3 linked regions of the Homo sapiens genome follow. The protein of the gene in region 1 interacts with the protein of each later gene in a biochemical or structural test. Each region holds a gene or a part of one and is shown in the gene's direction. Other genes may lie near its edges.

Evidence for each region.
Region 2: the proteins of CAV2 (region 1) and NCK1 form a complex in vitro, tested with the Homo sapiens proteins (one study listed by BioGRID).
Region 3: the proteins of CAV2 (region 1) and RASA1 form a complex in vitro, tested with the Homo sapiens proteins (one study listed by BioGRID).

What each region holds. Positions count from the first base shown.
Region 1 is NC_000007.14:116,493,501-116,504,248, forward strand, and holds the start of CAV2 (caveolin-2), read left to right. Parts: upstream 1-6,237; 5' UTR 6,238-6,281; coding exon 6,282-6,431; intron 6,432-6,545; exon of another isoform or gene 6,546-6,759; coding exon 6,760-6,947; intron 6,948-10,748. UniProt on the Homo sapiens protein: May act as a scaffolding protein within caveolar membranes. Interacts directly with G-protein alpha subunits and can functionally regulate their activity.
Region 2 is NC_000003.12:136,856,894-136,867,297, forward strand, and holds the start of NCK1 (SH2/SH3 adapter protein NCK1), read left to right. Parts: upstream 1-5,314; 5' UTR 5,315-5,460; intron 5,461-5,555; exon of another isoform or gene 5,556-5,858; intron 5,859-6,252; exon of another isoform or gene 6,253-6,276; intron 6,277-6,418; exon of another isoform or gene 6,419-6,540; intron 6,541-10,404. UniProt on the Homo sapiens protein: Adapter protein which associates with tyrosine-phosphorylated growth factor receptors, such as KDR and PDGFRB, or their cellular substrates. Maintains low levels of EIF2S1 phosphorylation by promoting its dephosphorylation by PP1.
Region 3 is NC_000005.10:87,270,352-87,280,954, forward strand, and holds part of RASA1 (ras GTPase-activating protein 1), read left to right. Parts: intron 1-10,603. UniProt on the Homo sapiens protein: Inhibitory regulator of the Ras-cyclic AMP pathway. Stimulates the GTPase of normal but not oncogenic Ras p21; this stimulation may be further increased in the presence of NCK1.

The sequences.
Region 1 (10,748 bases):
TTGTGTAGCCACAGAACAGAAATAGACTAACTTTTTTTTAGTAAACTCTCTGGAAACAAAAATCTTCCCAGATATTTATTGTTAGGAAAATATAATCTAAAAATTCTTCTGCCCAACCCCTTGGCTGCATCCCAGTCTTCCATCTGCTTTGTGCAGTTGGATTCCCTTTGCTCTTTACTCATAAATGATTCTCTCAAGCATTAAAAGTCACCTGATAGACACCAAAGCCATAATTTGCAAGATCCAGGTGGAAGGCATTTTGTACTTTTGTTCTTACTTTTATACTGGAAATATGCAATAAGGCTAAAATTCGTTTTTTAAAAAAAGACTTCCCATTTTTTTTCTCTTGGCTAATGTAGTAGATTAGCTATGTTATTTTCAAAAATTTGCATTAACTCTAAATAAAAAACAGAATAACATTTGTAAAAAGAAAAAAGATTAGAGAACACAAAGGCTTCAAACTGAGATACAATAAATTTTTTGTCCAAAATTAAATCCCAAATCAAGAAAACAACCTTTAGATCTGTTGTTTTAGCAACTAATAATCTGCTGTGCACATTTCAGTTGGTATTTGGAAAACATTTAACTCTGTAGCTTTGTAGAAATGATATTCCCACTTGAACATAGAGGAAATTGTACTTATTGAGAGTTTAACTCAAGAGTTAGTGCACAACAAAAGTTCATTAGTGCCCATTTCATGTTCTGGAAAGATAAAATATCAGCATCCTATAGAGATGTCTTATTTGTATATACAGCATTTCAGAAATCAATGGGATACTCAAAAGATTAAACAGGAACATCCTTTACTTATGGAACACAGGATAAAATAAATCTAAAATTAATTGTCATACATCGTTTTTGAATGAGAACCAAATGACCTATCCTACCACCTCTAATTGTGAATACAGGTTTTTCAAGAGTGTACCTTCTTCCTCATTTATTTCTAATTGCCAGGCATTGCCAAACAAAAGTTAATTCTGGAAATTCTTGTAAATGAAGAGAGGTTTTTGATCAGAGAAGGTGTTGTTTGAAACAGCCAGAAGATCCAGCTTGCAACAATTACGGACAAGCTACTGTGTCTTAATATCAAGCTAAAAATTCCCTGGTCCACTGATGCAAGACTTATTTTACTCAAATTGTGAACAAAAAGACAAGTGGTAAATTAGGAGGGAAAAAAGTGAAGCAACTTTTATTAAATACCATGCAACCATCTGGCACCACTCCGCAAAGTTGATTATTGACTAACTTTAATAGCAGACATTTTTGTCTATTCCTTTAAACATTTTGTGGAGGAAATGTCCTCTGTATTGGGGGGGGTGGGGGGACAGTTGGAGGTGGGGGGCAGATAGTGGTTGAGTGTGAGTTGGAGGGTAGAAGGAGGAAATTAAAAGATGCATTGATAAAGCAGTAGGGTACAGGAGTTATGCAAGCAATAGTTTATGTAAAGCCACAGAGAGAGTGGCTTATGCCAGAAACAGCAGGTCCTTCCAAATTTCTCAAGCTTTGTCCTTGCTAACAGTAAGCAAGCCTAGGAGGGGATGCTTGAAGAACCTGGTAAGCAACTGCCCGGCTCTCCCACTAACAAGTCCATGGATTTCTCAGTTAAGGTTACTTAAAATTGCAAAAGCTATTCACTTGCTGAAGATTGTCAAAAATCACTGAATTTTATAGCTTTAAGAGAGAATCTTACAGATCAAGAAGTCCCAAGCCTGTATTTTTCCAGATATAATCATTTAAACAATCCTAACCTTTGTGAGGAAAGTATAGGAGGCCAGGCAAGGTAGACAGAGCTTGAGGCCTTGGCAGTTGCTTCCTTTTGATCTCTAGGGGAAGGGGGTGGGGGTTAATATGTATTCATTAATTAATACCAACATTGTATTGAAAAAATTGCAATTAGTCAATGATAATGGGTTCTTCTGAACATTTTACATGACAAACAAATATTCTTAAGTTTAATTTCAAAAAGACGTGGAGTTTCTTTCTATTTTTTTTTTTAAGATGGGCCTTGCTCTGTGCCCTCAAACTCCAGTCTACAATCTCAAACTCCTGGGCTCAAGAAATCCTCTTGTAGTAGCTAGGACTACAGGCATCTCTCACTACACCTGGCTAGTTTTTTTTTTATTTTTTGTAGAGACTGGGTCTCACTATGTCTCCCTCCTCAGCCACCCAGAGAGCTGGGATTATAGGTGTAAGCCACTGTGCCAGGCCTAGCCCTGGAGTTTCTAATACATTGGTGATACAACTCTGAGATTTCTAAGCATGGATTTGTAAATGAAGAGCTGGAGCTTAATTTTTCTAATTCACACAGCACTGTTTCAACATTGTCTTATTCAGTGGTTCTCAGCCTGGGAAAGAAGGAGAAAGGTGATTTTGCCCCCCAGAGGACATTTGGCAACATTTGGAAACATTTTGGTTGTCATGACTGGGAGTGTTATAGGTATCTAGTGGATAGATGCCAAGGATGTTGCTAAACATCCTACAATGCACTGGACAGTCTCTCAAGGAAAAATGATCTGGCCCAAAATGCCAACAGGGTTGAGATTGAGAAACTCTGGTCTAATCTGAACACTCTGAATATTATTAAAACATATGGTGAGATCAAGAATTTATTACTGCATTTTCGTTAATACCAATTTGCTCAAAGGCAGTTTGAAAAACAGACCCTGACTAAAATTGCATGTGCGTTATACAGGGAAAAAAATATGACACATTTGTGATTTGAAAAGGAAAAAAAGCTGAAGGGAAAAAATTAGATATTTTTATTCATAAGAGCATTGCCATACAATTTTCAATGCTCCAGAAAAATAACCTTCTTCCATTGACACTGTGCTGAAAGAAGTGAGTAACAAAATGGTTATAAACTATCCTTCTCACAAATTCTAATCTATTATCAGACTGTTATTTCTAAAATATATTAATACACCATCTAAAAAACAGCCCTCTTATCAGAAGCTATGATACATAATAAGTCAGAAGATAAATGCACCAGTAGGAATTTATTATAATTTTTTTAATTTCTCTGGATTACAGGGCACGTAAACTCTGTAGGAGGTGCTTATTGGAGAGTAATTCTGTGATCCAGAAGACACTAGAATGTGTTCAGCCATTTAGCACCCACCCACCCCCTTTCTTTTCCCTTTCCTGGTAAATTTTCCTTTATGTTCATAAGGACAGATGCCATTGCTGTGGGAATCACTCTGGTTTAAGCCTCTTGAGAAAAACAGTAGCTAACTATATTAGTCCGTTCTCACACTGCTATAAAGAAATACCTGAGACTGGGTAATCTATAAAGAAAAGAGGTTTAGTTGGCTCACAGTTCCACTAGCTGTACAGGAAGCATTATGATGGCATCTGCTCAGCTTCTGGGGAGGCCTCAGGAAACTTACAATCATGGCGGAAGGTAAACAGGGAGTATCACCTCACGTGGCCACAGAAGGAGCCAAAGAAAGGTGAGGGGGAGGTGCCACACACTTTTGAAGGACGAGATCTAATGAGAACTCACTCACTATACAGTACCAACTGCGGGGTCGGGGGGCAGGGGTGGCAGTGGGGGTGGTTGCTAAACCATTCCTAAGAACTCTGCCCCCATGATCTAATCTCTACCTCCCACCAAGCCCCACCTCCAACACTGGGGATTACAGTTCCACATGAGATTCGGGCAGGGACACAAATCCAAGCCATATCACTAACCTTATCTAAATACTGGCCAATAGGATAAGCAAAATCATTTTTATAGCTTCCTTCAAAAAATCTTATGTATTAAAATGTTGAAATGTATAAGAATTTCATCAAAATAAGAACCTCACCAGATCTGACCCAAGGGAGAGAAGATTGTTCAATAAAAAATTACAAATGGATGAATAAATGAATCCTCTCCTTTCAAGTTCTGTGCTCCATACAACAAATCTAGATGGGTCTCATTTAGATGGGATTTAGAGACACCTTTCTTAAATACCTATCATTTTACGAATGAAGCTGTTGTCTAAAGAGTCCTCTTGGCCACTTCCTGAAAACAAATCAATTATTTGTGATAACTCTCAAATGTCCTAATAATCCCATGGAAAATGTAAATGTAATGAGGACCAAGAATTATAAGGTAAGAAGTGCTAATGTCAGATTTTTACCCACTACATAAGCCCACTCTTGTACTAGGGCAGTGACTTTCTTCTTTGGGTGAGACCTTGAAATCTGGGATTATAATTTTGAATTATAATTATAAAATGGTATTTGGCTGTAAATTATCTCCTTTTTTTTTCTGTTCCTCACAGTTGATATTATGGATTCCCATAAGGATTCATGTCTTCTATTCACTTTAATGAACAGTTGTTGGGCAACAATTCTAGAAGAGTTCCAATTCTCATCAGGAGAATGGACAAGGTGGAGAAGCAGAGAAAATGCAATGAGTAGAATGTCTAAGTCATCACTTTGGAATTGACTGAACATAAATAAAAATGAGAAAGATACGTAAAAAAGAAGGGAATGGGTAAGCAGGGTGATGTCTGGGAGAGGAGGGGCTCCATAGCCATGAGAGTCAACTCTGTAACACCCTATAGGGTTACAACACTGCCCTTCATATACTGAGGTAGCAGCAGGGAAACTTTTTAATTATTAGAAATATTGAACTTTGCCTCCCACCCCCAAACATTTTTCTCATTCAGTTCCTGTTCTTTTTTATTTCTGTAATTTTTACTGTTTCAAAAATGATCTTTTTTCTTTCGGAAGAAGCAATTCTTCAAATCCAGTTCACATAAGGGGATTTGATATGTTCAACAAGCTCCAAATACACTGTATCCAGCAATACCTACTACATGCCTACTTTGAGCTCTGAGCAACCTGCACCTCAAGCCTAGTTCTCATTGTTTTGCTTTTGGCAAATTTTCACTAAGTGCCCTTCCTCCCCAAACACACGTATATGTCTACCAGACCCTAAAGCCCTTTATGAACATGCAAACTCCTCCCTTCTGAAAACCTTTGCGTGAGTGGTCAGCAGGCTAATTCATCCATTGCAATGTGGCTTTGTGTTAGGGTTCTGTTTCCGTGCTGCCTGCAAGATAATCACAGATGTGACTGCATCTTAGAAGTTCCTGAATCTTTCAAGACAGTCTGGTTCACAAGAAAATTAAAAGGTGGAGGTCGGGCGCGGTGGCTCACGCCTGCAATCCCAGCACTTTGGGAGGCCGAGGCGGGCGGATCACCTGAGGTTGGGAGTTCGAAACCAGCCTGACCAACATGGGGAAACCCCGTCTCTGCTAAAAATACAAAATTAGCCAGGCGTGGTGGTGCATGCCTGTAATCCCAGCTACTCGGGAGGCTGAGGCAGGAGAATCGCTTGAACCCGGGAGGCAGAGGTTGCGATGAGCCGAGATCGTGCCATTGCACTCCAGCCTGGGCAACAAGAGCGAAACTCTGCCACACACACACAAACACACACACACACACACACACGGTGTAGTTTAGGAAGTAAAAAAAAAAAAAAAAAAAAAATCAGATCTCCCCTCACACCTCAGATCTGAAGGCACAAACTCTAGGGCCAGGGCGTTCGCCTACCCAACTCCACATGCACTTGCAGGTCACCTAGCACTCAGGTACCTAGCACTCAGGTACATTGTGGCTCCTTACCTCTCACGACAGCAGCAACAACGTTGATTGGAAGTTTATCACTGTGTGTTACGGGCCATGGGCCATGTGTGTTAGAATTTTATGTGAAATTAACATTTAATTCTCACGGACACCCCTGAAACAGATGCCACAGCCCCCATTTTGCCAACGAGGCAGCTGAGGTTCCCAGAGGCTCAATACCAGCACCATGAGCCGCAGCACGCAAGGCAAACACAGCCGGAGGTGAGCACATACCTGCTTCGCACCCCATGCGCCTAACCACAAGGTTCCCTCCCTCCAGGAAGGCCGTTGTCTTCCCTGGGACGACTTGCCAGCTCTGAGGCATGACAGTACGGGCCCCCAGAAGGGTGACCAGGAGGCCCTCCTCGTCCCAGCTGCCGGCGTCGCCGCCCACTGCAGGGCCCGGGCTGTGACTCGTGGGGACGGTTCCCTGCGCCCCGGCGGGGGAGGTGGGCGGGGAGGGGCGGCGGGGCGCCGGGGCGGGGCTCGGGACGGCCGGGCTGGGAGCTGGAGCCCACAGCGGGAAGCGGCCGCCGCCCGGGCCTCGCAGGGCTAGGCGAGGCGAGGGGGGGCGGGGCCGGGCGCTACGGGAAGGGGAGGCCGCGCGGACCGGGAGCCGCACCGCGCCAGCCGGGCTGCAGCGGCCGCGCACCAAGGCTGCGATGGGGCTGGAGACGGAGAAGGCGGACGTACAGCTCTTCATGGACGACGACTCCTACAGCCACCACAGCGGCCTCGAGTACGCCGACCCCGAGAAGTTCGCGGACTCGGACCAGGACCGGGATCCCCACCGGCTCAACTCGCATCTCAAGGTGAAGCCCGGGGCGGGCGGGCCCAAGTCCCCGCTGAGGCCGGGAGGTGCGGGCGCCCCTCAGCCCCGCCCTAACCCGTCCCACCATTGCTACCGGGTCGGCCCCGCAGGGTCTGAGACCCGCACCCTTCCCCGGTCCCACCCGTCACCAGGCCGCCCGCGTAGCCAGGAATTCTTAGCCAGGTTCCTGTGCGCCCACCGTGACCCTAAGAGAAGAGGCGGACGCCCTGGCACGTCCTTCCCTCCTGCTTCCCCCGCCCAAAGCGCTCCCGGTTCCCGGGGCGTCAGGTTGGCTGACAGTTCGGGGTCCCTGCGTCCTGTCTCCTCAGCTGGGCTTCGAGGATGTGATCGCAGAGCCGGTGACTACGCACTCCTTTGACAAAGTGTGGATCTGCAGCCATGCCCTCTTTGAAATCAGCAAATACGTAATGTACAAGTTCCTGACGGTGTTCCTGGCCATTCCCCTGGCCTTCATTGCGGGAATTCTCTTTGCCACCCTCAGCTGTCTGCACATCTGGTGAGACGGGGCACACCGGGTGGACCGGCTTTCTGAAACATGGGCATATTCTCCGCCACCTGCCCCCTACTCTCCTCTTATCCCAGGCCGGCGTCAGGAGGAGGAACGCGCATCAGTTCCCAAGCAGTAGGAAGAACTGGAAGGCCTTGAAAGGCAATGCGCTTCCTTTAGAATAACAGTTTGGGCTTGGAGTTTCAACAGGAGAAAGAATGTCGGTCTTTCCTGGGGTGTGATTTTCCTTGCATACATAAGGCTGGGCTGAGTGTGGAGGCGGGTACCTGGAAGCCACACTTCTTACCACAGGCTGCTCTCGGGGCCCTGTTGTGACTCGTACCTGCGGTTCTGGGCAGGACTCTTCTTTCTTTCATTGCCTTTTATTCAGTCACTGCCTGTGCTTGGGGTAAAACAAAAGTGATCTCTGAGCAGAATGCCGCTGACAGTAGAATTGGATGAGGATGTCAGACCTGGTTAAGCAGTAGTGTGGAGGGGCTGCTTCAACTTTGCCCCTGGCAGATGGCAAGGATGGGACCCAGAGGAAAGGGAGGTGTGTGCAGTTAAGGCGAGGGTCCCCCCCAGTACAAACGAATGAAAACTCCAGCTGCGGGATAATGAATGAGAAGGCCTCCAAATTACTTTTTCACTGATGAAACACAAATGGAAGTGGCATATAATTAAAGGGGAAAGAAATATGGAAGCCCACTGTATATTGATAGGATATTTTGAGTAACTCTATTCATACTCAAAATGTGTCCTAAACTGTAGAGAACTTTCTTAAGCATCTTTTAAATTTTTTATGGAAAATGTCATATTTTACCAATAAATGTTGTTGTGTTAGAAAATATCCACTTTAATCTGAGAGGAAGAATATTCAGATCATCCCCAGTATCACAACAGTTGTCACGCTAGTGCTTCAGGTTAGTCCTGGTGAAAGGTATAACCCAAGGTACCTCCGTGTCTTTCTTACACCTTTTATGATATTGCCACACCCTGATAAATACTCGGTGTTCATTGTTAGAAGTTACCAATTTATCCTTTATTTCTCTATACCACCTGAATCTTAATTTATTTAGTCAGTTAGCTAGCTAGTTAGTTCAACAAACTTTAAATTGATTGAGTGCTTAGTTTGTGCTGGGCACTGGGCCAGGATGAATGAGAGATAGGGTCTGCCTTCAGCTTACTCACAGCCTTATCAGGGCAGCTGGCTAGGTACAGAGATGGACGCTGAGAAAACACAGTCAACTGACAAAGAGGGAGGAACAGACAAGGCTTTGAAGAGTGAAAGGAGTCGAAAAAGACTTTGAAAGGATAAATGAAAATTCACCAAATACGTAAAGGATACACAAAGAACACCAATTTAATTTTATCACTAAAGGTTGTAAACAATTAAACTATGTTGAAGGTGCCAAGATTGCCAGGGAAATGAAAATGTTGCCTTAGTACATGATCAGCTTCATGAAGGTCAAATGGATAGTTATATTCTGACATTTGCACTTGAATTTTTTTTAAGATCCCTGAGTTGGCACATAAGATTTGGGATTCCCAATTAACTAAAACTAATCATCTAACCTCTATGTCAGTTTTCTCACTTTCAAAACTGTGAAAAACTGAGTGACCGCATAGCATATTGTGAAATGCTGACTATGAAGCTATTTGGAAATGTGAAGTACCATATTTATAGTCAACAAAGCTAGGCTTCCCAAAGCTTTTGTGAAAGAATTTGAAAAAAAAAAGTTTCTCATTTACTAAGTGGTGGAAAGATATAAGTAAAACTACAATTAACCAAGCAATGCCTCTCTCCAGCTGGCTCTTCTGAGAATGGGAGGTGTTTTTGTATAGTGCTTCAATTGGTGAATCATCAATGCACCTTTTTTTAGCCACATAAAATGTATTATTTAATATTATTTAACTTCAGCTTGTTTTTTTAACTATATTTATGTGGGGCATTAATATTTAACTGTAAAACATTTGTCACCAGGCAGCTGTGATTGCAAGTAGAGGAGTAATTTCAAACAAGAATGCTTAAAAGTTAGCTATGCCTTGATAAAATAGGTTTATCATTAATAGATTGCATTCCCATGACATGATAAGACCAGATCAAGGACAGACCTTACAGAATTGCAAACCCATTTGGGCAAGCTTTTTTTGTTTTGTTTTCTTTTTATATATATTTTTTAAAGCAGGGGCTTGTGTATTGTTTTTACCAAAAAGTTAGTGGTGACCAAAGCTAGGAAAATATGCAGTAGTGGAACTTTGAACCATGTCACAATATTAAAACAGGTCAGATTTTAGATCCTTTAAACAAACAATCAACAACAATAAAACACAGAAGTCTGGTGGTGTTGGATCCTAGACCAGAAGTACGGGCCATTAGGAATCAGTGAATTAGTTGGATTCCATACTACAGTCAGACAGAGATAGCTGCTGTTTGTTAAGCACAGGTTATTGGTCATAAGTGGATCATAACCAAAGAAATGTGGCTGGAGCACCCATATCCCTTATTTTTGCTGGAATGCAAAGCAAACAAATGCCCAACTGATGGAAATGCGATAGTAGCAATCTCATTTCTAGAAGACAGTTTTCATACAGTAAATTGCTATGAATGCAGTCTGCATGACTCTACAATTACTACAACACTAAATAAAAGTCTCTATCCTATGGCCTTATTATCCAAGGATATATATTATCCAAGGAATATATAACCTTACATATATTAATATATATAATATATATATATTATAAGATTTACTTAAGAAGTATTGGCCACATTCAGCCTCAACCAAATTTTGGGTCAATCAGAACTGCCTGGAGTTTCAGAAGCTAAACTATTTGTGATGTTGAGAACCCAACTTAAGTTTGATGTCGGAGGATCATTAGATTCTCTGCTCCAAAATGAGGGAACACAAGTAAACAAAAATAAAATCCAAATGAGTTAACAACACCCTATAAACTGAACTCCTCGAATGTGGGTAACTGCTTTGCTGAACAAGAAGATTCACTTTTGACATGTGCTAAATTCCCTTTTAGGACATGGAGATCTAAGGAGTCACGGAGATAGAAAATTTGTTAGCCTAAGGAAGAATAGAAAGTACATTGTATTCTGGCTGGGAGCAGTGGCTCTCGCCTGTAATCCCAGCACTTTGGGAGGCCAAGCTGGGCAGATCACTTGAGGTCAGGAGTTCAAGAACAGCCTGGCCAACATGGTGAAACTCTGTCTCTACTAAAAATACAAAAATTAGCCAAGCATAGTAGCAAGTGCCCATGATCCCAGCTACTCAGGGAGGCTGAGGCAGGAGAATCACTCGAACCCGGGAGGCGAAGGTTGCAGTGAGCCGAGATCACTTCACTGCTCTCCAGCCTGGGCAATAGAGTGAGAACCTGAAAAGAAAGAAGGAAGGGAAGGGAAGAGGAGGGGAGGGGAGAAGAAAGAGAGAAAGAAAGAGAGGGAGGGAGGGAGGGAGGGAGGGAGGAAGGAAGGAAGGGAGGGAGGGAGGGAGGGAGGAAGACAGAAAGAAAAAGAGAAAGAAGGAAAGAAAGAAAGAAAAGAAGAAAGAAAAAAGAAAAGAAAGGAAAGAAAGAAAGAAAGAGAAAGAAAAAGAAAGAAAGAGAAAGAAAGAAAGAAGGAAGGAATTCTAAGTGAAGTGGATTTGGTTAGGAAACTTTCTGATCTAAACTTCAGCCTTTTAATAGGCCAATTTGAGGTCATCTTGTTATAGTTATTTTCATTATATATTCTGCCTTCAAAATAGGTCTATTTATTATACATTATAATGACAGCATCATACAGGCATTTCAGGGGTACAT
Region 2 (10,404 bases), on another chromosome or scaffold:
AGCAGCAATTGATTTCAGCCTTGAGCTTCTTTTGACATCCTCCCCATCCACAACTAGCCTCATCATATCCTTCCCTGAAGTAGTAGGATCAGCCAGACAGCATCCTCTCAGGGGTCTGAGCAATACTCAGCCAGGTCATTTGTCTGAGTTTCTGAGACCTGATAATCCACCTTGAGTCCCCATTTTCACTAGATCTATCATTGACAGCTGCTCCCTGCAGTTATCACCTCTGGGTAACCTCAGTGTTCCGTTTTTGCTTTTTCAGTCAATGAAAACTCAATACTAAATCCTCTCTGTAGTAATATCATCTAATTTCTGATTTCCTGACTAACATATCTCTAAACCTTCCCCAAAGGAAACTACAGCCATCAGCAGGGTACTGTGCTTTGGGAAAATGTCAACATTTAGATTTTTTCAGGGATTACTAGACAGTGGCTCTCAATAGAAATTATACAAACTGAAAAAAGAATGAACAGAGCCTGAATGACCTGTACTAAGTACTGAGAAGTCTAGCATGAGTGTAATTGTAGTCCCAGAAGAAGAGGAGAAACAGAATGGGACAGAAAAAAAAATTTGAAGAAATACTGGACAAAAGTCTTCCAAATTTGATAAAAAAAAAAAAAGAAAAGAAAAGAAAATGAGAAACCAGCAATCCACAGACCCAGGGAATGAAATGAACCCCAAGCAGGATAAATACAAAACCAAAACCAAAACAAACATCACAGTGTAATGAAACATCACAGTGTAATGAAACATCACAGTGTAACTTTTGATAAATATAATGAAAATCTTATAAGCATTCATAGAAAAAGACACCTAGAAACATCAGTGTTAACTTTTGATAAATATAAACAAAATCTTAAAAGCATTCATAGAAAAAGGCATAAGACATACAAGAAAACAATGATAAGAATTACAACTAGTTTCTCACAGATATAATGGAGGCTGGAAAACGAGAATGACATCTTTAAAGTGCTGAAAACAAAAACAAAAACCCTTTGAATGGCTTCTCATTGCCTATAGGATAAACTCTAAGGTGCCTGACTTCCATAACCTGGTTATTGATTATATTTCTAGCTATCTTCTGCTCTAGCAATATTCTACTATCGTTTAATACCTTTTTATTATGCAGGCTCCTCTATGTGGACAGATTTTTTCTAGTTAATTGCCTGACTAACCTGGCCACACAACTCCTTTCCCCTGTGGCTTAATGTCCTCCTTGCACTGGACTGTCTATAACAATTTCTAACTATAAGCTATCAGGTTTCTGGGAAAGGTCTTGACATGGAGGCTCATTTTTCCCTTTCTTGTGTTCCCAAATTCTTTTATTTTGGATTAATAAAGTAAGCCACCTGCGTGTTTTTAATCATAGACAGATTAGCTGCCCATATCCAAAGCTCCACGTGTAGTCCCTAGATAAGTTTTGTTTTTGTTTTGAGATGTGGTGTGATCATAGCTCATTGCAGCCTCAAATTCCTGGGCTCAAGCCATCCTCCCACCTCAGCCTCCAGAGTGGCTGGGACTACAGGCACATGCCACTATGCCCAGCTGATTAAAAAAAATTTTGTTTTGTAGAGACAGGGTCTAGCTCTGTTGCCAGGGCTGATCATAAGTTTTGACTTACATTTTCTTGTTGCCTGATTCTGGTTAGTCCCTGATCCACTCAGCACTAATTAGCAAGGATGATTCCTGTTTTTGGTTTGAGTTCCCCTGAAAGAGAGGAAGCAGCAGCCATGTGCATGTTTATATTTGGAAGCTGGGGAGACAGACTGTGTGAAAGGAAGTCTCTGGGACAGCTCCCACCCCATTAAAACATGTACTGCATCCCTTCTAAGTGCAATTACATACATGCCTTTCTGCCTATCTGCCCTTCCAGTCTATGCTTTCCTTTTTCATTGCTGTTTGCTTATTTTTCTTCTTTGACTCCTCTTTTGCATATATTTTTGGAGGTTTCTTAAATTTTTTTAAAGAGTTCCTGTTAAGAATGAGTGATGAGAAAGATTAAAGAAGGAAAATTAAGAGGATAAACTAGCTGGGTGCTGTGGCTCACGCCTGTAATCCCAACACTTTGGGAGGCTGAGGTGGGTGGATCACCTGAGGTCAGGGGTTTGAGACAAGCCTGGCCAACATTGTGAAACCCCGTCTCTACTAAAAATACAAAAAATTAGCCAGGTGTGGTGGTGTGTGCCTGTAGTCCCAGCAACTTGGGAGGCTGAGGCAGGAGAATTGCTTGAACCCGGGAGGTGGAGGTTGCAATAAGCTGAGGTGGTGCCACTGCACTCCAACCTGGGCAAAAAAGCGAGACTCCATCTCAAAAAACAAACAAACAAACAAAAACCCTAAATGTATGACTTCAGCATACTTTTTGCTGGGTTAATTTTCCCCACTTAAGGTGGTGGTAAGCTACATGAAGGCAAGAACTGTATTTCTGTATTTTACCTGTTGTATTTATATTCACACCTTCTGCCTCCATCGTATGTTAAATATGTAATTAGAATTAAAATTGAGTCACGCTGTGCTAACAGTTTGATGGGTGATTTTGCAGCAACAGTTTTAACTCTGGACAAGTTTCTTCAAAAATGAATATAATATCTCAGTCTGTAAACTTTATAAAATGTATCAACAAATAAAACCATTGTATTAGCTTGGGCTGCCATAATAAAATACTAGATTGGGTGGCTTACACAACAGAAGTTTATTTTTTCAAAGTTATGTAGGTTGGGAGGTCCAAAAGAGGGTGCCAGCATGGTCAGTTTTGGGTGAGGGCTCTCTCTCTGGCTTGCAGATGTCTGTCTGCTTGCTGTGTTCTCAAATGGAGAGAGCTCTCTGGTGCCACTTTCTATAAAGACATTAATCTTATGGGATTAGGGCCCCACCCTTATGACCTAATTTAATTTTTATTACCTCCCTAAAGGCCTAGCTCCAACTAGAGATGGTCCCTGACTTAAGATTTTTTTGACTTTATGATGGTCCAAAAGCCATATGCACTCTAGAATCTGTACTTTGAGTACCCATAAAACCATCCAGTTTTTCATTCAGTATTTAGTAGATTACATGAAATACTCAATACTTTATTAAAAAATAAGCTTTGTATTAGATGATTTTGCCTAACTGAAAGCTAATGTAAGTATTCTGAGCATGTTTTAGGTAGGCTACTCTAAGCTATGATGTTTGGTAGGTTAGAAGCATTAAATGCATTTCTGACTTAAGATCTTTTCAACTTAAGGTATTTTCAGTTTATGGTGGGTTTATTGGAACATAACCCCTTTGTAAGTTAAGGAACATTTATATAGTCACATTAGGAGTGAGGGCTTCAGTATGAATTTTTGGGGGGGATGCAATTCAGTCCATACCAGTCATGATAAAATATGCAGTTATTTAAACCCTTAGAATAAACTCAAAATTCACCGCCATTATTCACTTTGGATGCTAATAACAGAATGTAGACATAGAGTAGCTGTTGCCCAGTTTCATGGTCTACTTGTCCCAGTCAACCTGAGGATAGTACAGCATAAATAGGTAAATTTGTGCTTGACCTTGTGATCCTACATATGGCAGGCTGTCTTAGTCCCTTTAGTGTTGCTAGAAAGGAATACCCAAAGCTGGATAATTTAGAAATAGAAAAGGTTTTTCGGCTTATGGTTCTGATGTCTGGAAAAGTTCAAGACTGAGCATCTGCATCTGATGGTAGCCTAAGACTGCTTCTACTCATGCCAGAAGGCAAAGGAGAGCTGGTGTGTGCAGAGATTACATGGCCAGAGAGGACGCAAAAGAAGAAAGGAAGTGCGACGTTCTTTTTAACCAGCTCTGGTGGAAATAAAGAGAACTCATTTACCCTCTCCCCAGGGAGGACATTAATCTATTCCTGAAGGAACCACCTCCATGACCCAACACTGCCCATTAGTCCCCACCTCCAACATTGGGGATCAAATTTCAACAGGAGGTTTAGGGGAACAAACATCTAAATTACAGCACAGGCCAACCACATGCATGCATTACCAATCACGTAAATAATTTTGAAGTTAAATGCAGAAAACTGCAAACTTTTGAGGCTGATATCCAGGGCCAGGATTAAAATAAAAAGTATTAATGCCTTAAACAGTATTTACTGACCATCTACCCTACTGCAAGGCCCTAGGGAGAAACTGAACAGACATGGTTACTGATTCAACGGAGTTTACAATCTAGGTAGACATACAGGCAAACCATTTCAATAGCTCGGATGGAGAAAACACCTGTGCTCCAAGGAAGGTACCTAACTGAGCAAGCTTCCCTGAGGAGCGATCCTAAACTGTGCCACAAAGATGGTTAAGAAGAGATGAGGCGGCTGGGCGTGGTGGCTCACGCCTGTAATCCCAGCACTTTGGGAGGCCGAGGCTGGCGAATCACGAGGTCAAGAGATCGAGACCATCCTGGTGAAACCCCGTCACTGCTAAAAATACAAAAACATTAGCTGGGCGTGGTGGTACATGCCTGTAATCCCAGCTACTCGGGAGGCTGAGGCAGGAGAATAGCTTGAACCCGGAGGCGGAGGTTGCAGTGAGCCGAGATCGTGCCACTGCACTCCACCCTGGCGACAGAGCGAAACTCGTTTCAAAAAAAAAAAAAAAAGAGGCAGGTTACGGCGCGGGGGCGGGGAAGGGGGCCTGCAGCACCGGCGAGGGGAAGAACCAACTTACTGATGCCTCAGCCAGTGGCTGGAGCCCTAAGAATGGACAGACCTGGCTCCGAAGGTCCTCTTCATAACACTACTGCCGCCAAGAATGTAAGCTGCCCAAGCACGAGGACACTTTTAGAGGGCCCTCAGACTCAGCTTCTTTTGGTCTGTGCCTCAAATTAAGCACATGTCTTACATTTCTCCCAGGTCCCAATTTTCAGGTCTGCTTTTCTTTGTTTTTCTTTGTCGCTCCCCGCTCCTAAGAACCTTCGGCTGGGATGACATTCTTCAGGTGCAGAAACCAGGGGGAAGCTCCCAGAGCAGTGGGGGCTGAACTCAGGACACAGTCATTTTTGCTGTTAAGTCTCTCCTGCGGCGCTGAGGAGGCAGGCTCAAAGTAACCAACCAGAGCAGCCGCAGAGGGAAAAGCTAAGACAGTTCTGGTCCGGCCCAGCGCTTCTCACCCTCTAGCTCTCTACTCTCCGCCGCGCAGCCTCCGCTCCCTCCACATCAGGCACGGCGCTTGATTGACATGAGGGCCCGCCCAATCCCAGTGCGGCAGAGACCGTTGTCGCGTCAGGGACCGGGGAAGGGGGCGACTGAACCTATCAGATTGGGTCCAGAGTGGGTTTCCTGCCCGCGCGGATCCGCCTGCCCACCGCGCGTGCCCCGCCTCTCTCCCAAGAGCTACGCGGCGGCGGCGGAGCGCAGGCCTCGTGCCGTTACGGCCATCACGGCGGCCGCAGTGGCGTCCTGGAGCCCTCCTCAGGTGAGCTGGAGCTGCCCGGCTCGGCAGCGGGAAGGTGAGACGGCCTTGTTGGCAGGCAGACACACACACACCCCCCTTCAGTCCGCTGTCCGTCCATACAGCCTGTTACTCGCTGCGTCGCTTCCTCTTCTCGCGCTGAGTTAGCCCCGGGGGCGCCGTCTGCAGGCTCGGAGCCGAGCCGGAGGGGGCGCGGAGGCTGCTCGGAGGGTCCAGACTTCTGCACCGGGATTCCGCGAGACCCTCGGGCCGTTGCCCCAGGGAGCGTGACCCCGCGGCCTCCTTGTCAGCCCCTGGAGCGCTGTGTCGGGCTGAGAGCCCGGGCGGCCGCCCGTGCGAGCCTGGGAGGTCGAGTGTGCGGCGCGCTGGTTGACTTGTCTGTTTTCTCATGAAAAAGTCCTTTTGCCAGCTGTGGCGTAATCCGAGGCCGGGAAGGTAGGGACGTGGTAGGAGGAAGGGCGCTCTCACCTCCAGCCCGAGAGGAGGGGAGGCGTCAGCCTGCGCGGTGCTGCGGGTGGACATCTTCGGGACGCGCCCTCTCCCCTCCCCCCACCCACCGGCCGTTTTCTAGTCTGGGGCTGTGACTTTAATGGTCTGGACCTGCTTCAGATTCGTACGCGAGTTGCTGGGGCTGTGAACTTTTGACTTGAGTTGTAATATGTTTGGTAAAACAAAAAACCATTTCGATAGGTTTTGTAACCTTTCTTCTGTATTAACATACAAGTTAAATTCGCCGTTAGAAGCTCAGGAAGCTGGGTTTTGTTCAGGGGTGAGGACGTAACCGTAGGAACGCTCTCGGTGTCAAACTGATGGACCCGGAGTCACCTGAAAATAATTATGCACGTTAGATTAGGTAAGAAGCCCTAGAAATTAGGAAAGAATTAGGTTAAAGAGAATTTCCTAACTCCTCTTTGGGTAGGGAGCAAAGCAGCTCAATGTCCTCCCAAAACGGGTGTTGCCAAAAGGTACTCATTTTTAAAATTTTACTTTGATAGACGTATGACAAACCAACTATAACGATTTCTTCAGCACCTGGAAACCAGTGTGCCTAGACTCTCAGCCTTCGGCGAGGTCACACAGTAAACGGAGAAATAACCTAAGAAGAAAGTTTTGTTTGGTAATTGTCAATAATATTCGTTCTTTTCTTTTTAAAACACTTAATTTTCTTGTGGGGGGTGGAGTCTGTGATATTCTTAAATAGGCATCCCATTCACAACTTGATAGTAATATGCACTGGTTGATAAATGGTGCTTTCTTTTCATCTTGACCACAAACTCTGAGACTTCTTTGGGAAAATTGTGATCTGTGGAAATTGGCTGTAATATCCATAAACATAGTTTGCAGAGTGTTCACATCTACTCAGCTGTTGGCTCATGTATTAAATTTTAAAATGTGTACTTATTTTTCTAGGCATTATCTTTTGTCCAGGTTTTGACAGTGCTTTCAGGTCCATCTAAATAAAATTTGAAACCTACGTGTAATGTTTTGTTCGATACTGAGGGAGTCCAGGCGGGGTAGCTCAAACCTGTAATCCCAGCACTTTGGGAGGCTGAGGCGGGCGGATCACGAGGTCAGGAGATTGAAACCACCCTAGCAGACACGGTGAAACCCCGTCTCTACTAAAAATACAAAAAAGTAGCCGGGCGTGGTGGCGGGCGCCTATAGTCCCAGCTACTCGGGAGGCTGAGGCAGGAGAATGGCGTGAACCCGGGAGGCGGAGCTTGCAGTGAGCCGAGATCGCGCCACTGCACTCCAGCCTGGGCGACAGAGCGAGACTCCGTCTCAAAAAAATAAATAAAATGTGTATTTATTTTTCTAGGCATTATCCTTTGTCCAGGTTTCTGCAGTGCTTTCAGGTCCATCTAAATAAAATTTGAAACCTACGTGTAATGTTGGCCGGGCTCGGTGGCTCACGCCTGTAATCCCAGCACTTTGGGAGGCCGAGGCAGGCGGATCACGAGGTCAGGAGATCGAGACCAGCCTGGCCAACACGGTGAAACCGCGTCTCTACTGAAAATACAAAAATTATCCGGGCGTGGTGGCACGCACCTGTAATCCCAGCTACTCGGGAGTCTGAGGCAGGAGAATTGCATGAACCCGGGAGTCGGAGGTTGCAGTGAGCCAAGATCGCCACTGCACTCCAGCCTGGCAACAGAGCAAGATTCCGTCACACACACACAAAAAAAAAACAGAAACAAAAAAAACCTATGTGTAATGTTTTGTTAGATACTGAGGGAGACCAGGCGGGGTAGTTCAAGCCTGTAATCCCAGCACTTGGGAGGCCAAGGCGGGAGGATAGCTGGAGGCCAGGAGTTTGAGATCAGCCTAAGCAATGTAGTGATACCCTGTCTCTAAATTAAGAAAATATAAAAAAATTTAAAAAGGAAAATAATAAAGAAAAGAGATACTTAGTGATACTTCATGGTTCTGGGTTTTTTTCTTTTCTTTTTTTTTTTTTTTTTTGAGACAGAGTCTCTGTTGCCCAGGCTGGAGTGCAGTGGCACGATCTTGGCTCACTGCAACCTCTGCCTCCCGGGTTCAATCGATTCTTGTGCCTCGGCCTCCTAAGTAGCTGGGACTACAGGTGTGTGCCACCATGCCTAGCTAATTTTTTTGTATATATATATATTTTTCTTTTTCTTTTGTTTGTTTTTTTTTTTGAGACGGAGTCTCACTCTGTTGCCCAGGCTGGAGTGCAGTGGCGGGATCTTGGCTCACTGCAACCTCTGCCTGCCGGGTTCAAGCAATTCTCTGCCTCAGCCTCCCCAGTAGCTGGGATTACAGGCGCCTGCCACCACGCCTGACTAATTTTTGTATTTTTAGTAGAGGCAGGGTTTCACCATCTTGGCCAGGCTGGTCTTGAACTCCTGACCTCGTGATCCACCTGCCTCGGCCTCCCAAAGTGCTGGGATTACAGGCATGAGCCACCACGCCCGGCCTGTATTTTTAGTAGAGACGGAGTTTCACCATGTTGGCAAGGCTGGTCTCGAACTCCTGACCTCAAGCAATCTGCCCACCTCCGCCTCCCAAAGTGCTGAGATTACAGGTGTGCGCCACCGTGGCTGGCCTATATTCATTTTTCAAAAATTTTCTAGAGTTTTACATTTTCATTGCTTTGTACTTTTACTTTGTCTTATTTTACTTTTTCACCATGTGTTTTTCAAAGCTGAAGGTATATTTGATGTGATTATTATAAATCACTTGTCAGGAAGACTTGACTTAATGAATACAGATACAGTTCATTTTTAAAATCATGGTTTAATAATTTTTAGAATTTACCTTTATAATATAGAAAAATACCAAATGTTCTTTATCTGCACTAGAAAATTAAATGATTATTTCATTAATAAGTAAAATTGAAGGGAACTTTTGAAATCACTGAGCAGTTAACAAATTCTCTATAAATACTGTGATGTTAGGAAGACAACAAGGCTAAATATGACATTTAAAGATTTAAGGAAACTTTATGTCTGGCTGATCCTCACCTTAAACTCTAATGAAGATAGAATTTATAGTCTTCCCTTCAAAACTGATTCCATATGCTGACTTTGTTTTGGTGACATTACCATGCTTTCAATTACCCAGACACAAACTTTGGTTTTATCTCTATGCGTGTAACAATATTGGCTGATTTTTGCCAGCCATTTTTATCTTTGAACTACTCACTAGCCTTTAATTGGGTTTTTTGCTTGATTTTTCTCTCTACTTAGTATGTCTTCCTAAATCTTAGAATTATGCTTCAAACACATCCTTCACTTTTCGGAAACCAGTGATAACTCTCTGTTATCTTCAGAGTATAGTTCAGAATTCATAGCCTAATAACAGTCTGCTCAAACCTGTTTTTCTGGGGCCAGCACTATTTCTTTCTTTTTTTTTAATCAGTGCCAGCACTATTTCTTTATAGGAGCTGTCCACTCTAACCAAACCAATCTCTGATTCTTATTTACTCTTTGTATTTTTGTACCTTCGTATCATTCCTTTTTCTTTCTTTCTTTCTTTTTTTTTTTTTGAGACAGAGTCTCGCTCTGTTGCCCAGGCTGGAGTGCAATGGTGCGATCTCGGCTCCCCGTAACCTCTGCCTCCCGGGTTCAAGCGATTCTCCTACCTCAGCCTCCCTAGTAGCTGGGACTACAGGCATGCGCCACCATGCCTGGCTAATTTTGTATTTTTAGTAGAGACGGGGTTTCTCCGTGTTGGTCAGGCCAGTCTTAAACTCCTCACTTCAGGTGATCTACACATCTCAGCCTGCCAAAGTGCTGGGATTACAGGTGTGAGCCACTGTGCCTGGCCTCTTTCTTTCTTCTTTTTTTTTTTCTTTGAGGCGTCTCACTCTGTCACCCAGGCTGGAGTGCAGTGGCACCATCTTGGCTCACTGCAACCTCCGTCTCCTTGGTTCAAGTGATTCTCCTGTGTCAGTCTTCCGAGTAGCTAGGATTACAGGTGCATGCCACCACGCCTGGCTAATTTTGTATTTTTAGTAGAGATGGGGTTTCACCATGTTGGCCAGGCTGGTCTTGAACTCCCGACCTCAGGTGATCCACATGCGTCGGCTTCCCAAAGTGTTGGGATTACAGGCGTGAGCCACTGTGCCCGTCCAGTTTGCCTAGTCTTTAAAATTTTTTTTTTCTCCTAAATTACCAAGTAGCAAATGAAGTAAAATTTGTTGAATTTTCGCTTTTGGTCCTTTGGTGCAGTCTTCCAAATGTTTTTCCTGTTCCCTATGTTGCTTGCTTTTCTTTCTTTCTTTCTTTCTTTCTTTCTTTCTTTCTTTCTTTCTTTCTTTCTTTCTTTCTTTCTTTCTTTGTTTCTTTCTTTCCTTCCTTCCTTCCTTCCTTCCTTCCTTCCTTCCTTCCTTCCTTCCTTCTTTCTTTCTTTTCTTTCTTTTCCCTTCCTTCCTTCCTTCCTTCCGTCCATCCATCCGTCTGTCCGTCCGTCTGTCTCTCTCTCTCTTTCTTTCTTTCTTCTTTCTTTTTTGACAGGA
Region 3 (10,603 bases), on another chromosome or scaffold:
TTCCCCCCACCCCAGAGATGGAGTCTCGCCTTGTTGCCCAGGCTGGAGTGCAGTGGCGTGATCTCGGCTCACTGCAACCTCCGCCTCCCGGGTTCAAGAGATTCTCCTGCTTCAGCCTCTCTAGTAGCTGGGATTACAGGCGCATGCCACCATGTCTGGCTAATTTTTGTATTTTTAATAGAGACGAAATTTCGCCATATGGCCAAACTGATGTCGAACTCCTGACCTCAGGTGATCCGCCGGCCTCAGCCTCCCAAAGTGGTGGGATTACAGCCGTAAGCCACGGTGCCCGGCCTTTTTTTTTTTTTTTTTTTTTTTTTTTTTTTTTTTTTGGATAAGCTTCTTTGGAGCATTTAGAAAGTTCTGAAACTAATTAGGAAAAGATTCTGTTACCCTAATCCATTTTTGACTTAAGGCTACATCTTTTGATACTTAAAGGGGAAAAGTAAAGTTAGTCATATTTATGCCAGCCAACGGGATGTAGTATTCCACTTTTTATATTCCTCAATAAAGGATTCAAGTCTTTCGTCAGAGTTTGGTTCATATTTTAATGTCTTTGTAATGCAGAGTCCCTGGGAGTATTCTGGGAGTGTTAATTCCAATTTTGCTGGGCGCGGTGGCTCACGCCTGTAATCCCAGCACTTCGGGAGGCCGAGGCGGGTGGATCACCTGAAGTCCGGAGTTTGAGACCAGCCTGACCGAGATGGAGAAACCCCGTCTCTACTAAAAATACGAAATTAGCCTGGCGTGGTGGCGGGTGCCTGTAATCCCAGCTTCTTAGGAGGCTGAGGCAGGAGAATCGCTTGAACCCGGGAGGCGAAGGTTGCAGTGAGCCGAGATCCTGCCATTGCACTCCAGCCTGGGCAATAAGAGCTTAACCCCGTCTCAAAACAAACAAACAAACAAAAAAACAATATTACAGCACTGCTTTTGAAAAAAATAGTTCAATTTTTATTAAATGCTAATAGCATGCTTGGTACAATGGTTATGAAAAACAATGCAACTTTTCATACTGAAAGAATCTAGTCTTATGCTAGTTTATAACTAAATTAGGTATATTTAGGATATTGTAGTTAAAAAAAACTGTTTTTAGTAGACTTCTTTTTTTTTTTTTTTTTTTTTTTTTTTTTTTTGAGAGATGGAGTTTCGCTGTTTCGCCCAGGCTGGAGTGAAGTGGCGTGTTTTCGGCTCACTGCAAGCTCCGCCCCGCCCCTCCCCGCCTTCAGGTTCAAGCGATTCTCCTGCCTCAGCCTCCTGAGTACCTAGGATTACAGGTGCCCGCAACCAGGCCTGGCTAATTTTCATATTTTTAGTAGAGACAGGGTTTTGCCATGTTGGCCAGGCTGGTCTCGAACTCTGACCTCAGGTGATCCACTTGCCTCCCGAAGTGCTGGGATTACAGGTGTGAGCCACCGCGCCTGGCCCAATAGACTGTTTTTTAGAGTAGTTTTAGGTTCTCAGCAAAATTGAGGGGAAAATACAGGGTGTTCCCATTAAATTTTTAGTAATAAACACGATTGGGCTGGGGGTGGTGCTTCACGCCTCTAATCCCAGCAATTTGGGAGGCCAAGGCGAGTGGATCACTTGAGGTCAGAGTTCGAGACTAGCTTGGCCAACACGGTGAAACCCCGTCTCTACTAAAAAAAAAAAATCAGCCGGTCGTGTTGGCGGGCGCCTGTAATCCCAGCTACTCTGGAGGTTGAGGCAGAATTGCTTGAACCAGGGAGGGGGCGGTTGCAGTGAGCCGAGATCTGCCGTTGCACTCTAGCCTGGGCAGCAAGAACGAAACCCTGTCTAAAAAAAAAAAAAACACCATGATTGAGTACTTATGAAAAATTGTGAGAAATTCATTGTGTGGGATTTTCACCATTACTACATGTATTTGGAAATAAAAATTGTATGACTATGTATATGAAACTTGTTCATGTTCTAAAAAATACCCTCCATTTATAATATGTTTTTAAAATTTGCCACTGAGAAGTACAAATTTCCTTCTTATTTCATCTTAGTTATCAACCCAGAGTCACTGGAGGCAATGCAGTGTAGTGGTTAAGCGTGCAGATTCTGAAGTTAGACAAGATTTGGGTTGGAATCCTGACTCTGCCACTTACTAGCTGGGTATTCTTGGAAAGGTCAGTTTCCCCATCCGTAAAATGGGGATAGGAATGGTACCTTCCTCATATGATTGTTTTTTTTTTTTTAAGATTTAATGAATACCTTGATGTATTCGTCACAGTACTTGGGCATAGTAAGTGTTCGATAAATACGTAGTCCCCTGTGCCCATAACTGTAATATTTTACTAGCACTAAATTGTCTACTAATTCTTTTGGTTAGAGAATCTCCCTTGTTAAATGACTATTTTACAGAATGTTTTGAACTCCAAATCAAGCCTACCACGATTAATTATATTAAGAATTTTATTTTAACTTTATAAGGGCTTCTAGCAGTAGGTTAAGCAATTTTAGAGGTGAAATTCAAGTGTTCTCTATAAATTCCTATTCCTGAATGTAGATATTCATATTTTTAAGTGGAAGGAAAAGCCTTAAAGACATTTTCAAATAATATTTATCTTTTGTAAAAGTATTGAAGAAATGTTGGACTAAATACTGACTATGAGTAACTGGTCCCCTTAGTTATGGATAGCATGGTATTAAGGGGGTTTAGGTCACAGGATTGAGTCCACAAGTGGCTTGTTACTCGAGTGTTCCATGGTCAGGAAGTTAGTTCAACTTTGTTCCCAGTTTTGTGCTATTGATCACAAAAGAGTCAAATGACAATATGTAGATACACCAGTGCAAATAAATTAACACTATTAATTAGTATTTTGTACCTTGTTTTTCTGTGTACGTGGTGAATCATTAGTCTCATTTTTATTACTGAGCATTTTCATTAGTTTGGTTGAGGCTGGAAATGTTTATGTAATTTGTACTATTTATTTGAATATTTTTGAAAGTTTTGAGAAAATTATAAAAATAAAAAAAATTCTTCCTCTCTATTTCTCTACTATAAAAGTTTCTATATCTAAAACTGTTAACAGATTTCTTTTTCGAGAGAGAAAAGGTTAAATTAAAGAAGTTTGTCACTAGTACTCCATAATTTTTTGGAGTTTCTTTTCATGGTTCTCATTTTTTTTCTTCTGCAGGGTGAGGGGCAGTGGTGGTAAAGGTATATTGTTTGTGTAGTGCACCATCAGTTATATGTAGAGATTTTTAACTGTGAGTCTGCAGTAGCAAGTGGCCATTGGTGAGAATCCAACCCACAGATATATACTGCTTGCCCTTAGAGTATTTGGAATATTTGATAATTGTCACCATTTAAGAATAGAGATTTCTTTTCTTTTTCTTTTTCTTTTTTTTTTTTTTTGAGATGGAGTCTTGCTCTGTTACCCAGGGTGGTGTGCAGTAGTGTGATCTTGGCTCACTGCAACCTCCGCCTCCCGGATTCAGGTGATTCTCCTGCCTCTGCCTCCCCAGTAGCCGGGGTTACAGGTACACACCACCATGCCTGGCTAATTTTTGTATTTTTAGTAGAGACGGGGTTTCACTCTGTTGGCCAGGCTGGTCTCGAACTCCTAACCTCAGGTGATCCGCCTGCCTTGGCCTCCCAAAGTGCTGGGATTACAGGCGTGAGCCACCTCGCGGCCAATAGGAAGATTTCATATTTAAGAAGTCTCAACTTCTAGCATCTCTAGAAAACCCACAGGACTTGGCTATACCTGGTGGCCATTCCTGCTTGAGACTAGATTGCCAGAGCTGAGTAGCGGTTGACCCTTTTAGGTGGGTACTGAGGTCTCCATTTGCAGTCTCCACCAGGTCTGCTTTGCCTTTGCTATTGCAGTATTTGCCTGGCATCTGGCCTGGATCTTATGCTGAACCTAATATTCAGACTTCTCAAGTCTGAAACTTTAAGGAAAAGAAAATAAGGAATGTAAATAGTACCTTTCTTTTTTAAAAAAATCATTTTACTGTCTCTACAAAAATAAAATCATTCTTATTAAGTCAAATAATTGGTGAAGGTTAATGTTAGAACATGTAGCATTCATTAACTTTGTCACTGATTGCATTATACATATGGGTGAGCCATTGTTTCTTAATAAAAATGGGGGTGAGACTTGCTAAGATTAGTTACGGACAATGATTGATGACCAGAACTCATATTTTTTACTGTATTTGTATAAGTAGCAGAGAAATATAGTAGGTGCTTCAAGGGTTGCAAGAGTAAAATGCCCCTTTTCTCAATGGGAGAAAAGGGAGTATTAGATCTAGTAGGAAATTAAGTAAACCAATTACTGTGATTCAGGCTAGGTTAAGATAAATATCACGAGTGAAGTATGAGCAAAGGTCATGAGGGTTAAAAGAAAAAGAAATTTGTGTAATTAGGATCAGTAAATTCTTTGAGGAAAAATAGCAGGTATGTTTTTCCTGCTACTTAATTTATTTTCTGAGCAAGAGGTTATTGGTTCTGATGCTCTTCGCTTAATGATTCTATCAGGAAAACATAATTATGAATTAGATGAGTTTAAACTTTTCACCCTTAGTGAAGAGTCTGGTCTACAGAACTTTTAGTTACCTGTGGTCTGGAGGGAAGTTGACGGTGATGTCTGTAGTGACTGAGGTACAGAGCACAGTTGAATGCTAGAATCGGTATGGATCATTGATTAGCCACTCTGGGGAAAACAGGCAAACATTACTGGCAAAGCTAAAAAGGACAGCCATAAATTAGGAAGGGAAAAGGAAAAACGAAGAGTAGACTTTCTGGTTGCTTTACTTCTCTCTCTTTACTGGCCATTGGTGAAATGAACAGAGTCCCTTTAAGAACACTTAAATACCCAGAAAAGTACCTTTTGGGAAGAAGATTTTTTATAGTGATTATTAACTATAACAATGGTTACCACTGACATTTTTTGTTGTTGTTGCTTACTGCCAAACAGGAACAGTTCTAATTGGTTTATTTGTATTGTTTTGGTTATCTATTGCTGCATAATAAAGCACTCCAAAACATAGTGGCTAAAACAATTGTGTATTTGCCCTTGATTCTAAAATTTGTGTATGGCTTTATGGTGACTTCTCCACATGTGATCTGTTGGCTATAATGTCCACTGTGGCTTCTTAACTCATAAATCTAGTGCCTCAACTGGGATGGCTGGAGCAGCTGGTAGATGGCTGGGCATTTCCCTCTCTCTTCCTACCCATGTCGTCTCTCCACTTGAAGAAGGTTGGCCTTCTTTTTTTTTTTCCCCCCTGAGATGGAGTCTTGCCCTGTCGCCCAGGCTGGAGTGCAGTGGTATGGCTCACTGCAACCTCCGCCTTCCGGGTTCAAGCATTTCTCCTGTCTCAGCCTCCCAAGTAGCTGGCATTACAGGTGCGTGCCACCACGTCCAGCTAATTTTTGTATTTTTCATGGAGATGGGGTTTCACCATGTTGGCCAGGCTGGTCTCGAACTCCTGACCTCGTGATCTGCCACCTTGGCCTCCCAAAGTGCTGCGATTACAGGCATGAGCCACTGTGCCCAGCCAGCTTGGCCTTCTTCATAGCATGGCAGCTATGGCAGTTCCGTGAAAGACCTTTCCAAGCCCTAGTGTGCCGGTATTTATCAAGCTTCTGTGTTCCTCATCCTTGCTAATGTTCCAATGGTGAGTGCTGGTCACATAACCCAGTGTGCATTAAATATGGGAGGGGACTATAAAATGGCATGAATACAGCAAGTTGAGCTTTCCTCAGGGCATCAAAGTAACAGTACCATGTGTATTACTTATTTTCATGTAATACGAGATAATAGAATACTAGTAGTGAGGGACAGGCTGGGAGATAGGACAAATACTTATGAGTTCTTCCTTCAGGCCCAGCAAGCTAAGTTGTCTTTTGTTAAATGAGTCAAATTTCTCCACAATAGATGTTGCTTTTTGGCTACCATTACCTTAATTTTAAACCAAAAATACTGAATACGGATGTTGTTTATTGTTTGAATATGCAGGTATTTCTGTGTTACCTTGAAATCACTGGCAGTACATTTCAGTTTTGTGCTGCGTTAAAAATTGTTGTTATTAGATACAACTTATTGATAACTATGTATGTCTTGTCACATCTCTACAGGATTTAGGGTATGATGATTTTAGGTGTTTTAGTGGTTATGTGATTTAGTGAGTAAAATAATGAACAGTATGGGGGACAAAAAGAAATATACAATTCTACAGTCTAGTTGGAAGATGAGGCATTACTGGTAGGGAAATAAGATGATAAAAGTAGTCTACAGATACGTTGTGCAGGTAAATTTTTCAAATTCAGAGGATAGTTGCCAAAGAGTGAAAGAATGAAAGTAAATGAAAGAATGATACTGAAATTTCATACCATAATTCTCTTGAAGGAAATTTCAGTATCATTCATTTAGGATTATTACAGTGAGAAAGTGTGATTAACTTTTGTAACATTTGTGTTTCAAATTGTAGTCAAGTTGTTATGTGTAACATAGAGTTTTAGTTACAGAGGGAAGCTTCTCTGCTTAGATACAGAAGTAGCCTTAGGTAGAGTGACTTGCTTCACTCCACCCTACACCCTAGCTAAGTTCATATAACTAGGTAGTGGTAGAACTGGGACAGAATCCGATTCTCATACTGTTTCACATATATTTAGATTTGAGTAATATTTATAATTCATTTTTTTTTAAATTTTAGAGAGGACTAGAAGCAAAGGCTCAGTATTTGCTAATCATTTGCTAGATGTCAGGTACTTTATATAGATTATCTTATTTAATTCTTACAATGATATAGTGAGAATGGGCATCATCCTCATTGTTGAGGAAACTGAGTGATAGAGCTGGAATTTTAATGTAAATACTATGCTTTTTATTTTGTCTTGCCCCTTTCCATTACGTAGAATGTACACACATATATGCACCCAGATAAAACTTAACGTACTTCAGGGCTGGCAGTAACTGGCATTTTGGACTTAATAGTTCCCCCCTGTCCCCCATAGTCATAGGTTGAAGCCTTAACCACCAATGTAACTGAATTTGGAGATACAGCCTTTAAAAGAGGTAATTAAGGTTAAATGAGGTCATAAGGGTGGCTGGTGAATCCTATAGGACGGGTACCTTTATAAGAAGAGGTACCAGGAGTATGAGTGCATCAAGAAAAGGTCATGTGAGGACATGGTGAGGAGGCCTTCATTTGTCAGCTAAGGAGAGAGGCCTGACCAGAAACCAAGCTTGCCAGCACTTTGATAGTTCAATTTCCAGCATGCAGAACTGTGAAAAAATAATTTCTGTTGTTTAAGCCACCCAGACTCTGGTATTTCGTCATAGCAGCCCAAACTGACTAATACATGGGTAACTCTACATCTTTAAAAATGGATTTGGATTATTTTGGAACAGATTAAATGCATGTCTGCTGCTTGAGAAATAAGGTCCTCATTCTTTTAATTTCTTTCACTGTGGGAGAGAAAATCTTGCCTTACTTTACCTCTTTCTTTGTTAGTCAGTGACCTTTATCTTTTTTGATTGTACCTCTGTTGAAAGATGGAAAGCATATTTAAATGCATGTCTGATTATTATAGTGTGGAAAGATCCTACACATGACCATGGTAGCCATGGAATATCCTATGGATAAGCTGTTACTCCAGCAAATTTTCTGTATTCAATGTGTGTTCATTGTTGTAACATTTTACTTTAAAAATTTCGCTAATACATCTGTCTCAAGCTAAGGGAAAGACTTAGAGATCTCCCTCACCTCTTTTAAGTGTTTTTTGTAGGAATAACTTGCTAAACTGGGTTCATATTAGACACTTGTGTAACGATAGACCGTATCTCACCTATATTCTTTTCTATCTAAATGTTGATTCATTTCTCTAATTTTTAAATCTTTTTATTTTGAGGTAATTGTAGATTCATATGCAGTTTTAAGAAATAAGACAGATGGGCCGGGCGCAGTGGCTCACTCCTGTAATCCCAGCACTTTGGGAGGCCGAGGTGGGTGGATCACAGGGTCAGGAGATCGAGACCATCCTGGCTAACACGGTGAAACCCCGTCTCTACTAAAAATACAAAAAAAAAAAAAAATTAGCTGGGCGTGGTGGTGGGTGCCTGCTACTCGGGAGGCTGAGACAGGAGAATGGCGTGAACCTGGGAGGCAGAGTTTGCAGTGAGCCGAGATCATGCCACTGCACTCCAGCCTGGGCGACAGAGCGAGACTCTGTCTCAAAAAAAAAGAAAAGAAAAAGTAATAAGTTAGAGATGTACTTGTTCATCCATTTTACCTCAGTGGTAACATCTTGCATAACTATAGTGCAGTATCAAAACCAGGACATTGACATCGCTGTAATCCACCTATTTTGTTCACATTTCACCAGTTTTACATATATTCATTTGTGTGTGTGCATGTATGTGTGTGTGATATATTTAGTATTTAGTTCTATGCAGTATTGTAACATGTAAATTTGTATAATCATTACCATACTAGAGATACAGAAGAGTTTCTTCACCACTAGAATCTCTCATGCTGTGTTTTATAACCAGAGTGTCTCCTTCCTCTTTCCTTATTCCCTGGTAACTGCTAATTTGTTCTTTTTTTTTTTTTTTTTTTTTTTTCCTGTGGTCATTTAAAGAAGATTATGCGGGCTGGGTGCAATGGCTCATTCCTGTAATCTCAGCACTTTGTGAGGCTGAGGCAGTTGGATCGCTTGAGCCCAGGAGTTCAAGACCAGCCTGGGCAACATGGCGAAACCTTGTCTCTACAAAAAAAACAAAAATTAGCTGTTCGTGGTGTTGCACACCATAGTCCCAGCTATTCAGGAGGCTGAGGTGGGAGGATCACCTGAGCCTATGAGGTTGAGGCTGCAGTGAGTTATGATTGTGCCATTGCACTCCAGCCTGGGTGACAGAATGATAACCTGCCTCAAAATGGAATCAAATAGTATGTAACCTTTTGGGATTGGCATTTGTCACTCAGCATAATTTGTCAAGTTCGTGTAAGTTGAAGTATCAATATTTTGCCCTTTTTTCATTGCTGAATAGTAGTCCATGGTGTAGATGTGCCACAGTTTGTTTAACCGTTCAGCCATTGGGGAACATTTGGGTCATTTCTAGTTTTGGGTATTATAAAAAAAAGCTGCTATAAACATTTGTATATATGTTTTTGTGTGAACATAAGTTTTCATTTCTGTCAGTTAAGTCCCCGAGAGTACAATTACTGGATTGTATGATAGTTGCATGTTCACTTTTATAAGAAATTGCCAGCATTTTCTATAATGGCTATATATTTTTACATTCTCACCAGCAATGTGTGAAAGATCCGGTTTCTCTGTGTCTTAACCAGCATTTGATGATATCATTTTTTATTTTAGCCTTTCTGTTTTTACTGATATCTCATTGTGATTTTGATTAACATTTTTCTAATGTCTAATTATATTAGTCAGGGTTCTCCAGAGAGAATCAATAAGATACATGCATATATAAAAGGGAGTTTATTAGGGAGAATTGGCTCATGCCATTACAAAGTCAAAATCCCACAATAGGTCATCTGCAAGCTAGCCAATGAAAAAAGCTGGTACCACATCCAAGTTGGAAAGCCTCAAAGCCAGGAAAGCTGACAGTCTGAGGCCAAAGGCCTGAGACCCCCAGGGAGGCTGCTAGCCTGAGTCCTGGAGTCCAGAGACCAAAGAACCTGGAGTTTGATGCCTGAGGGCAAAAGCAAAATATCCCTCACTAGAAGGGGATGGGGAACTCAGCACGCTGGCTCTGTTTCTCTTACTGCCTGCTTTGTTCTGGCAGCCGACTGCATTGGATGGTGCCCACCCAGAGTGGGTCTTACTCTCCTCATTCACTGACTCACATGCCAGTCTCTTCTGTAAACACCCTCACAGACACACCCAGAAACAATGCTTCACCAGCCATCAAGGCATCCCTCAGTCCAGTCAAGCTGACACCTAATATTAACCATCACAGTAATGATGTTGGAAAATCTTTTTCTTTCTTTCTTTTTTTTTTTGACAGTGTCTTGCTCTGTTGCCTAGGCTGGAATGCAGTGGCACAATAATGGCTCATTACAACTTCCACCTTCCAGGTTCAAGCGATTTTCCTGCCTCAGCCTCCCAAGTAGCTAGAATTACAGGCACCTGCCACCACGCCTGGCTAATTCTTGTATTTTTAGTAGAGACAGGGTTTCACCATGTTGGCCAGGCCGGTCCTGAACTCCTGACCTCAAGTGATCCACCTGCCTCAGCCTCCCAAAATGCTGGGATTACAAGCGTGAGCCACCTCGCCCAGCTTGAAAAATCTTTTCATGTGCTTTTTCCATCTGTATACCTTCTTTGGTGAAATGTCTGTGTCTTTGGCCCATTTTCAAATTGGATTTTTTTAAATTGTTGAGTTTCAAGAGGTTCAACCCATATTGTAACATGTGTCAGAATTTTCTTTCTTTCTTTTTTTTTGAGACAGAGTCTCACTCTGTCGCCCAGGCTGGAGTATGGTGGTCCGATCTCGGCTGACTGCAAAGTCCACCTCCCCAGTTCATGCCATTCTCCTGCCTCAGCATCCCGAGTAGCTGGACTACCGGCGCCTGCCACCACGCCTGGCTAATTTCTTTTTTTTTTTTTGAGGCTGAATAATGT